Regions from separate parts of the Homo sapiens genome. Here region 1 is linked to region 2. A link means that fine-mapping ties the variant in region 2 to the expression of a gene that starts in the linked region. Tissue or cell type: blood mononuclear cells. Region 2 holds a variant in brackets; the other region holds the start of a gene. All regions are shown on one strand. Distances are from middle to middle.

Evidence for each region. PIP is the estimated chance that this variant, and not a neighbour inherited with it, causes the effect. A credible set is the group of variants that fine-mapping cannot tell apart.
Region 1: it holds the start of GPR25, and the variant in region 2 is the best candidate, but not a certain one, in a credible set for the expression of GPR25 in blood mononuclear cells (TOPMed, PIP 0.76).

What each region holds. Positions count from the first base shown.
Region 1 is chr1:200,870,142-200,875,651 of GRCh38, reverse strand. GPR25 (G protein-coupled receptor 25) reads right to left here and starts at 2,671. Exons shown (of 1, transcript NM_005298.4): 1 at 1,474-2,671. The coding sequence starts at 2,614. The coding sequence ends at 1,529. RefSeq lists an enhancer at 1,977-2,619.
Region 2 is chr1:200,979,674-200,984,673 of GRCh38, reverse strand. It overlaps KIF21B (kinesin family member 21B), which reads left to right. Exons shown (of 35, transcript NM_001252102.2): 28 at 1,580-1,618; 29 at 3,578-3,714; 30 at 4,959-5,000. Among named protein-coding and RNA genes, the nearest start is that of KIF21B, 42 kb to the left of the region's middle. RefSeq lists an enhancer at 4,837-4,986. The variant C/T (reference allele first, on the strand shown) is at 2,495.

The sequences.
Region 1 (5,510 bases), 110 kb after region 2:
CGAAGTGCCTGAAATGTGTCCTGCTGGCAGAGGTGACCTCACAGGCTGCAAGGCTTGCCTCTCTTGGAGTATATGGTAGGAACATGCAGAGATGCACTTTTTGGCAGGCTGACCTAGGAGAGCCGATGTTCAATCCAAGCAGCTCCAAATGCTGAAGAGAATACAGGGGTATTTGATGGGGGGATGGGATGGATAGCCTGCGACAGAATGCCAGCCTTCAGACCCAACCTAGTGCTGAGGTGCTGATGTGCGTGCACACCCACCCGTTCCCCCAGAGCTTGCAACATCAAGACTGGCCTGTGGGGATCTGGCTAGGATGTGCACTGACTGAAATGTCTTTAGGCCAAATCCTCTTAAATCAAAAGTATAAACAGTGAATTTCCAAACCCTACAGAAACCTCAAATGAGAAATGACAGAGTCAGAAAATGGCTAATCCTCCAAGTTTGTACTGGAAGGTCTGAAAAAAGATAGAAAAAAAAAGGGGGGGCCTGGTATATATTTGAAAATCCAAAATGACACATCTTCTCTTGGAAGTGACACTTGGCTGGCAGATGCCCTTATATAAATATATTTTCTTTCGGTAATTTTCAAAATGTGAAATGTCCTTAAAAATAAGAATAAATGACTTGCTTCCTCCTGTGGGATTACTGCACCTGCAGAGTGCAGCCAGCTCTCATGCTCCCAGACACCACCCCAAATCCTCATCATCCTGAGATCAACCTCAACTACTGTGTTGAGTTTTGTCTCACCCAGTGTACGACCCGCCTCCTGATATGCATTTCACTCCCACTGCTCAAGCAAAGACGGTTGTCAAGACAGGGCTAGCAAGAGTGTTTATTGAGAAAGATGAATTCACAGAGATTTTGAGGTTCCTGGCTGAGTGATGGAGACCTCAAAAAACGCCTGGTGAGCGATTTCAGGACCTTCTGTCCAGAGGGAAAGACCAGAACAACTTCCAGGTGAGTCCTGCCGCTTCACAGGGGGAGAAGTGTCACCAGATTCAATGCAAGGGTTTTGTGAGTGAGAAGGGCAGGGGGTCTGACTTGGAGAAGGTATTTCTCTGAAAGCAACGGCTATTGTGGGAGACGGGAGAAAGCACAGCCAGAAATCAGAATGGCATTTGGGGGTCTGGGTTAGATATTCTGGTGGGTTCTCTTCCCGATGGGACAGAGAAGGAAACCCACTTCCCTTCTGTCTACTTGGTGAATCTGCGGGTCTCCGAGTTGCTGTCTGCTACATCTCATAGCACCTATCTTGGACTGGACAAAATTAGCTCAGGTACCCTGCAGGCTGAGAGGGAACAGCTAGTCACAGGAGCCTGGTTTAGGGGAGTTCAATTGTTCTGAGGTTCCGGGGAAACCGATGGAGGAGGCCTTGGGAGTCCAGGCAGCGCGCGAGGAAATGCGATGCCGGCCCGAGCAGCTTGCTGCCGCCAGAACAGGCGCGTCTGGGGAGCTCAGTCCCCTCCGGGACCTCTGGCCTCCTCTCGATGCTCCGCTGCCGCCCACCTCCAGCGGCCCGGGGCAGCTACCAGGAGGCCGAGGCAGTGTTCGCGGCCTGGGCCCGGCAACGGAACACGGAACTGTCGTCCCTGGAGAGCGAGGAGGCTGAGCTGATCCTTCGCGCCAGGCGGCCGGTGCGCCCGCAGGCCCCGTCCAGCGCCCGGGCTCGGAATGAGCGGTCCAGCAGGAGGTAGATGAGCGGGTTGGCGCAGCTGTTGACGAAGGCCAGGCAGGTGGCAATGGTGAGGCCCCAGCGCAGCGCCAGCAGCAGGGGGCACGGCAGCGGCAGCGCCCCCAGACGCGCCAGGTGGAAGACGGCCCGCAGGGCGCTGAAGGGCAGCCAGGAGCCCACAAACGTGCTCTCGATGGCGAAGATGATGCGCAGCGAGTTCCTCCGGGCCCGACCCACGTGCGGCGGCCGTCGCAGGCGGCGCGAGATGCGGCAGTAGCAGAAGAGGGTGACGACCAGGGGCAGCACGAAGGTCAGCAGCAGCAGCAGCAAGCTGAGGCCCTGGAAGGCGTGGGAGGGCTCCTCGCCGCACTGGCTGTCCTGGCCCCCAGGCAGGGGCTGCAACCCCCGGTAGACCAGGGAGGGCAGGCCGGCCAGCAGCGCCACGGCCCAGACGCCGCAGCACGAGGCCAGCGCGCAGCGCGGGGTGCGCAGTGGCCTCGCCTCGAGCAGCTTCACCACGGCCAGGTAGCGGTCCACGCTCATGCCCGCCAGCAGCAGCGCGCCCGCGCAGCGCGTGCCCGCCAGCGCGAAGCTGCTGAGCTTGCAGAGGCCATCGCCGAACGGCCAGCGGCCGCCTAGCGCCGCCGCCGCGGCCCACAGCGGCAGCGTGAGCACGAAGCCCAGGTCAGCTGCCGCCAGGTGCAGCACGAAGGTATCCACCAGCCGCCGCGGGCCCCGCCGCCCGGCCAGCAGCCACACCACAAAGGCGTTGCCCAGCAGGCCCACGGCGAAGGCCGCCAGGTAGAGCGCGGGGATGTAGACGTAGCCGTAGGGCAGGTCCCCGGCCGGACACAGCTCCAGCTCCTCCAGGCCGTCCAACCCCGAGTAGTCCCAGGGCGCTGACCCCGGGCTGGGGCTCCAGGGCTCTGTGGGGGCCATGGCCTGGCTATGAGGCCTGCGCGGAGTGCAGCCCTGGGCGCAGGCGGCAGCAGCTCTGAGCAGGAGGGGGTTTGCTCTTCACGCCCGGCCCTGCACCTCCCTTCCTGCCACCCAAGCCGGAGGCAAATGGGTGGGCAGGAAAGAGGGGAGGGAGGAGGGGATGGGGTGGGAGGGGCAGGCTTCTGTGAGAGAGATGGTGGCCTCCGATTTGGGGCTGACCCGAGGGGTAAGGGCAGGGACAGGCAAAAGGGGCTTCACATCTAAATCTTGGGAGGAAAAGTCTTCAGGGCTGGGAGACCTGCCCGGCCTCCCAGTAGGAGCGTGGCCCATTCCTCTATTAGTTGCTCAGTTTCTTTGTTCGTGAAATCGGGATACTTGCCCCACTGTCTCAGGGTCGCGTTGCAAGAGGTGGTGGGTGCCCGAGAGCCCTAACCTCTTCTCAGCCTCCACTTCACCCCTTCCCACCTGCACCCACCGGCTGCTGTCTTCTCTGTTTTAGAGGTGAGAAGACAGAGCCCCGGGATTTTATGAGTATGGGGCCTAAGGCACGCCCCACCCCAAATCCACCTGTTCCCTAGGAAAGACTCCACTGCCGGGACACAGCAGATCTGGGTGGGTGGGGGAGCCCGCCCTGGGCAGTCAAGCAGTTGTTAGCGTCCTGAGATGTGGGGCTCATGTCTTCACCCTATGAGTGGCTTCTCTGACCCAGTCAGGTCCTCATGAAGCCACGCGAAAGGGTTTTAAGGCAGCGAGGAAGGGGTGTAGTCAGATCATCCTGCTGGAAAGGGGTGAAACCTGGGATTCACATCTGCCTCTTCCCTGTCTTCTCCTATCCTAAAAAACCTGTCAAGCCAGACACAGATGTAAGCTCAGTTCAAAAGATGACACCTAATGAAACACCAGATTAGTTGTCCTAAATTATGAGTCAGGAGCTTGGAGGCAGCAAGATCCCTTCTGAACTGAGAAACTGAGAGTAAGGGGAGGATTCATAAAGACGAGGGGGAATGAAGTCTGACCCTGAGGAGGCAGTGGGACCTAAGGAGGAGAGGATGGGTGAGGGAAAGCTTGCTCTTTCTCCTGAAGGAGGCATGCAGCCACTTACATCTGAATTCTTCTTAGCAGATATCCCTTCCACAAGATATTGTGGTAGAACTGATGTCACAGTGCCCTCTGAGTCTGTCCCCAGTGTTCCCAGGTATGAGTGGCTGATGTGCCGGGCAACCCGGTGTGGAAAATTTGAGGTGGATTATCAATTTTGTTCGATTAAGACTTGTTAACAATGAACTCCTCCATGAAGCAGGCACTGTTTCAGGCACTGCAAGAGATGCCATTCTTGGCCTTCGCAGTTTGTTGCATAGGCAGGAGAGATGGTTACATAAGCAGAATCTTATGTAATCTTATGCAGGGGCCAAATTGTAGTAAATGTTAAAAACCAAGCCCTCTTAGGGTTTAGTGGAGGGGGAGTGATTATTTTTGACGGGAGGGCTGAATCAGAAAAGGCCTTCGAGGAGATGACACTTGAGATCAGTCCCAGGAAGGAGCTGAAAGTCAAATAAGAGCAGCAGAAAAGAGAAGAAAGGGTCAGACTCGGAGGAGGGAGTAAAGGGAACAAGTATACCAAAATGAGTAGGAATGTGGGCTTTTCAGGGGACAAGCAGTCTGCCAGAGCCCAGGGTAGGAAGGTGGGGGCAGGAGATGAAGCAGGAAAGGATCATGAGGGGATTTGGATTTCAATCTATAGGTCATGGGGAGCCAGGAGGCATCGATCTGTGTTTTGAAAAGATCGCTGGCAGAACTATGGAGAAGGGAGAGGCTCAAGCCAGGGAGACCCCATAGTAGGTTGTAATTATTTGTGTCTGAAATAGATCATGAGCAGTGGGGACAGAAATGGGAGGGTATATTCAAGAGATAATTGTAACATCATAGGTCTCACAAAGAGGAGTCAAAGATAAGCCTGGGGTTTCTCTGCTTAGGGACTATATGGACGCTGTCCCCTTAACTGCCAAGAACACAGAGAGGCACATGTGTGTATGTGTTCAGTTTGATGTTGAAGTGGGGTCATGAAATAATTTATCATCTAACCAGGATGTTTCTGAGAGTGAAAGGGGCACTATCAGAATTAACCTGGGCCGTAAACCAGGACTATTTTGGGCAAACTGGGACATAAGGTCACCCTCGCTCAGGGTCCCTCTGGCACACGGAGATCCCCAGGAAGGATTTGGAAAATGGTCTTAGAGGCCGGGCGCAGTGGCTCACATCTAATCCCAGCACTTTGGGAGGCCGAGGTGGGTAGATCACTTCAAGTCAGGAGCTCGAGACCAGCCTGGCCAACATGGTGAAACCCTGTCTCTACTAAAAATGCAAAAATTAGCCGGGCACGGTACGCGCAAGTCCCAGCTACTCAGGAGGCTGAGGTGGGAGAATCGCTTGAACCCAGGAGCAAAGGTTGCAGTGAGCTGAGATCAAGCCACTGCACTCCAGCCTGGGTGAAAGAGCGAGACTCCATCTCAAAAAGAAAATGGTCCTAGAGCTCACAGAGGGTTGGGTATGCAGTGTTTAGGCTGCTCCTGTCAAGAATTTCTCCCACACCAATTACAAGATGGGCAGGGAAGAGAAGAGCCTAGGGAATGAATGGTCTGGACCTTCCCTTCACTGGCTTTTCAGCCTCCGGGCTTGGTTTTCCCCTGAAGACCCACCCCAGAGCCGCTTTTCTAATGTCTGAGCATGTGGTTGCTGGTGAGCGGTGCCCACATCCGGGGTGGAGTAGGGGGCTGCAGCCTCCTCCCCTAGAAGGCTAGCAGGGGCAGTGCTTGCCTGCCAGAGCCCAGAGACCATCAGAGACAGACCCAGTGTTGCTGGACTTCACCCCTTCAGGCACACCTCAGTCTGCGGGCTC
Region 2 (5,000 bases):
CCCTTCTCCTCCCCTGAGAATGCCAGGACCTCAGGAGAGGGCAAGAAGGAGGCCACAGGGATTGGGGCCGGGCAGTCAGGTGGGCTGGTCGCATGGGGCCGGTGCCTGAGGGCTCTCCAGAGCTGCCCTTTAATCCACCTCTGCTGCTGCTTTGAGTCTGCTCTGAAGCCCCTTCCTTCAGCTTCAACCACTCCACTCTCTGTGCATTCTCCCAGCAGAAAGAGACCAGACCCCCAAATTGCCTTCCTCAGGCAGGTTCAGGTCCACCTATATTCACAGCTCCTGATGCAAGACTCTACTGCCTAATGGTGTGGTTTATGTTAACAGCCTCCCCTGCATTCAGGCTTTCTCCCTGTGCTTTACAACCTGCTTTCATATATGTGATTTCATTAGGCTATGAAACAACCACGAGAATTGTCTTCCCTATTTCACATAAGAGGAAATGAGGCTCAAAGAGGGAGCCAGGGATGTTCACCTAGAAAGTGGCAGAATTGCACCCAGAGCCTGGGACTTCCAGCCCCTGCCTGCTGTGCCTCAGGAAAGGGGAGGACCCTATCCTCCATGTGCTGCTCTGGGCTCCCCAGCATTGCTGGGCCCACCCTGGTCCTGTTTTGCTCTCTGCAGCCCTCAAGAGGGCTCCTCTCTTAGCTCCCTGAAGGCTTCCCTGCCCCAGGGGTGACAGTGCTGTGGCCTTCAGGGGAGTCTCACACTAGAAAATACTTGTCCTTGTACCTAGTGCCTGATGTCCACCCTCCCCACCTCTCCACAGAAATGCCCCTTCCTGGGTCAAAATACTACTTGATGAATGCTGAGCCCAGGAGTCAGAGCCCTGCAGACCTGGCACCCCAGACACCTCCTTCCCCAAACCTATCTTGGCTCAGGCTGCTGTGGGGGGAGCCATGGATCACTCCTAGCCCATCTCCATGTTGTTACAATCAACAGGTCCCCTTTTTGGAAGGATTGGGGCAGGGCTGTGCCCATCCCAGCCTGATGGTCTTCTGGAGGCCTTGGTCTTGTCCAATGGTCCAGGTCTTGGAGCCTGTGCATGGTGCACAGCCAACTTCTAGGCACTGTCCCAGTGGGCCCCCTAGGGATAGTGGGCTTTGTAAATAAGTGAGCCCCTGAGGAATTGCTGGAAGAAGCCAGCTCCCAGGGAGGGGTAGGATCAGGCATGGCTTCCTTCAGCCTTGGGCAGGTATGAGCATTGCTGGGGTGGGGCAGGTGCCCCCAGCTTGTGCGATGGGGCAGCCAGAGAGCTTGGAACCAGCAAACAGCCCTGGAAACGTCTCCCCATGTGTGGGGCTGGTGCTCCCACATCTCCCCGTGGCCCCCTCCTCGCTCCTCCCTTGCCAGCCGAGAGACCCTGGCAGCCCACTCCTGGGGGAGAGTCCCAGCTCCCAGACCAGCCCACCCACCTCCTCCCCTGCTCTCCCGAGGCCCTCATTCCTCTGCCTGTCTCTGCTCCGCTGGAAGAGAATAACCTGCCCTCTGACCACCCCACACACTGCTGCCGCCTCTGCGTCCCTCTGTGTGTGTCTCCTCTCACCCCCTAATCCAGCTAATTTTCTGCCCTCCCCAGGTCTGATGACAGCGACTCCTCTTTGTCGGAGGTCCTGAGGTACACACAGAATGTCTCTCGTGTTTGGTTCCCCACTCTCACTCTCGGCACCCTCTCTTCTCTGTCTCTTGCTGCATCCCTCCCGCCTGACACCCGTGTCCTCAGCATGCGGCCCCTCCACTCCCCTTCCTGCTGCCCCCCTCTCCAGACCTGTTCCTGCCCCCATGGTTCCTCTCTCTCAGGGTGGCCACAAGGCCTTGGACTGCGCCAGCTAGAGCTGGGGGCTTGGGGAGGGTGCACAGTTGCTTGTCGCAGGCCCTGTTCTCTTCTCCCTCCTCACCTGGGCAGGGAGGGGCGCAGCATGGAGGCCTAGGGGATGCTGGGCTGGGGCTGAGTTCTCCACGACTGGAAGGCAGGGGAAATGCTGAAGGCTGCTCCTTTTGGGGGTGCCGGTGGTGTGCTCTGGGTCCTTTGATTCCCTCAGCTTGTGCTGGGGGTGAGCTTTTCAGACGTTGGCTCTGGGAGGGGCACCATGGGGGGAGGGGCACCATGGGGGCAGCGCCCCTTGCCCACACCTGTTAGCACACAGATGTGTGGGTACCTCCCCTTCCCGCAGCCTGTGGGATGGCTGGAGGCTGGTTCTCCCAGCCAGCCGAGCATGACACCGCACAACGAGGAGCAAGACTCAGGACCTGGGGTCCCGAGCCCCTGACAAGCCAAGGGCCCCTCGTGGGCTGAGAGCTTCCTCGGCTCTCCTGGTGGGCTGTCTCAGCTCCTCGAGCCTCCAGCCCTGAGTGTCGACAACTGGTTTACTGTGAATCATGAGGCTTTGCCACCACAAGATGTTAGCCAGCTGGCCAGGCTGTCATCGGGGGGAGCATGATCCCTTTGACATAGTTCTGTGGCCATGCAGTGAAGCCAAACCATTGTCAGAAG[C/T]AGGGTGCTGGAGCAGCTTGGGGAGCTATTTGTGCATGTGTGGCACCTGGCTGGCAGCTGGACGTATCCGACCACCATCCTCAAGGGTGGGCCTGGCAGAGTCTGGGGGGAGCTGTGCCAGAAGCGCCACAGGCAAAACCTTGATCATTTCAGTAGACCCTTGGCCAGAGTCACTGTCAGGAGCAGCTTTCTCTTGGGAAAAGAAACAAAGCTAGGATATATTTTCAGACATGACTCAGCCAGGGTCTCATCCCAAAAGACCCTCACTGAGAAAAAAATCATCTTCAGAACCTCAGGAAGCTGGATGTGGCAAAACCCTCACGCTCACTTGGGCCAGCCTCCTTCTCGCTCCCCTAGCATCATGGGAGCGAGGAGGTGTTGTTCCAGGTCCATACAGCCCCATTCCAGAGAGCCCCAAACCTCCTACCCAAAGCCAAGCCAGCCCCAAAGGGATTTAGCCCTTCGTAAATGCCAGTCACAAGTTTGACCCCGCTGGTCCAAAAGGAGTGTGTATGTGTACACATGGCTCTCTGCTTGGAAGATGCTAGCCTCAGAGGCAGTTACCAGCAGAAGGGTTTACTGGGATCAGGGTGCATGGGGGTGATGGCCTGAGCAACCCTCCCTCTCAGCACCCCTCCCTCACACTCGGTTAACTGAAGCAGCATGCAGCTTCTGGTGGAAGCTACAGGGCCCAGTTCCAGCCCCTGGGCCTCTGCCCTGCCCAGCTGGACCCGGGCGCATTCACATCTCAGGATCTGGGTCAGACATTGTCAGATAGGAACTCTCTGTGGACAGAGCCCACACCTCCTGCACCTTCTAGCTGTGCCTAACACCGGGTTTGCTTCCCCAGAAGTGCTCAGGATGGCAACTGATGATTGCTGATTAAGACAGGCTATCTCCACTCTGTGTAGCCCGTTCCCGGCTCTCAGACCTTGGTGGAATTTGGCTGGAGTCCTTAAAGTCTCTGTTATTTGGTCCTCATCCCCTCCCTGCCCTGTCCCCATCCCACACACGTGCCTTGATCAGCCTGGCCACAGTCTCCCTGGCTGACGAGCATGCCTTCTCTCCCTCTCTCCCGGGAAGGGGCATCATCTCCCCGGTTGGAGGAGCCAAGGGTGCACGGACGGCCCCACTGCAGTGTGTCTCCATGGCCGAAGGCCACACCAAGCCCATCCTCTGCCTGGATGCCACAGATGAGTTGCTATTCACAGGGTCCAAAGGTATGTGGAACGCCAACTAGCCAGGTAGGGTTGGGGTCTCCTACTCACCCCTGCTTCCTTTGTCAGAGTGGTCTGTGAAGGAGAAAAGAACATAGAGCCCCCAGGAGTTGAGGATATGGGGTCTATTTGCTTACTACCCTTGTTTCTTACCTTGGCTCAAGGCCCCCATCCCATGCATCCTTGGCCAAGCCTTCCCTCATACCTGACCTGGTGGCTCCATCCAGCACTTCCTTCCAGACCTTCCAGGGAAACTTCAGGAAGCTTCTTGGGTGCCCCACCTGTACTTGCACTGCCCAACATCACCCCAGCTCATACATCTAGGCACTCCCTATGATCTCAGCAGCAGCACTTTACAAAGTCACGCTCACCTGATTACAGCAACAAAGTCAAACATTTTACCAGCAGATAGGCTGGGCACAGTGGCTCATACCTGTAATTGCAGCACTTTGGAAGCATGAGGCAAGAGAATTGCTTAAGCCCAGGAGTTTGAGACTACCTGCGTGGGCAAATAGTGAGATCCTGTCTCTACAAAAAATAAAAAATTAGTCACAATGACATGTGCCTGTAGCCCCAGCTACTCAGGAGGCTGAGGTGGGAGGATCGTTTGAGTCCGGGAGGTCAAGGCTGCAGTGAGCTGTGTTTGTGCAATTACACTCCAGCCTGGGCAACAGAGCAAGACCCTATCTCAATAAGCAAATACAAAATTCTTTATTTACTCTTTCATTCATTCATTTTACCGACAGAAAGAACTAGTCTGTAATAGACACGCATACTATAACACAAGCATAAATATAGCTCTCCACGGCAGTAGGGGGATAGCTGTCAATCTAGGTGTGATTGATTGATTCCAAGTTTTCCCATAACATTTGCTTGCACTGGTTCATTTGCTTTGTCAGCAATTAGTGTTTGGAGGAACAGGCACCATAAAAGCTTAAGAATTTTATTTTAGCCCTGGACACCTTAGCAGTATGGCTCACAAAACTCTGGTGTTAGTGGAAAGTTTGCTTGAGGAACCCTGGTCTGAAGTTCTGAGGGAATTCTCTCTTCCCTGAGTTTTTTACTAGCACACACATGCCAGTGAGCACATGTGTATGTGTTTTTTTCCTCTTCAGACCTGGAGCTCCGTCCTCTGGAGCCCTGTGGATCCCTTTCCCCTATCCTGGGCAGCCCCTGCAGAGGTGGAGCTGCGCCCCCTAGTGGCTGACATCCCTCCCCTCCCTGTGGCTTCCTCCCATCTCTCACAGACCGAAGCTGCAAGATGTGGAACTTGGTTACGGGACAGGAGA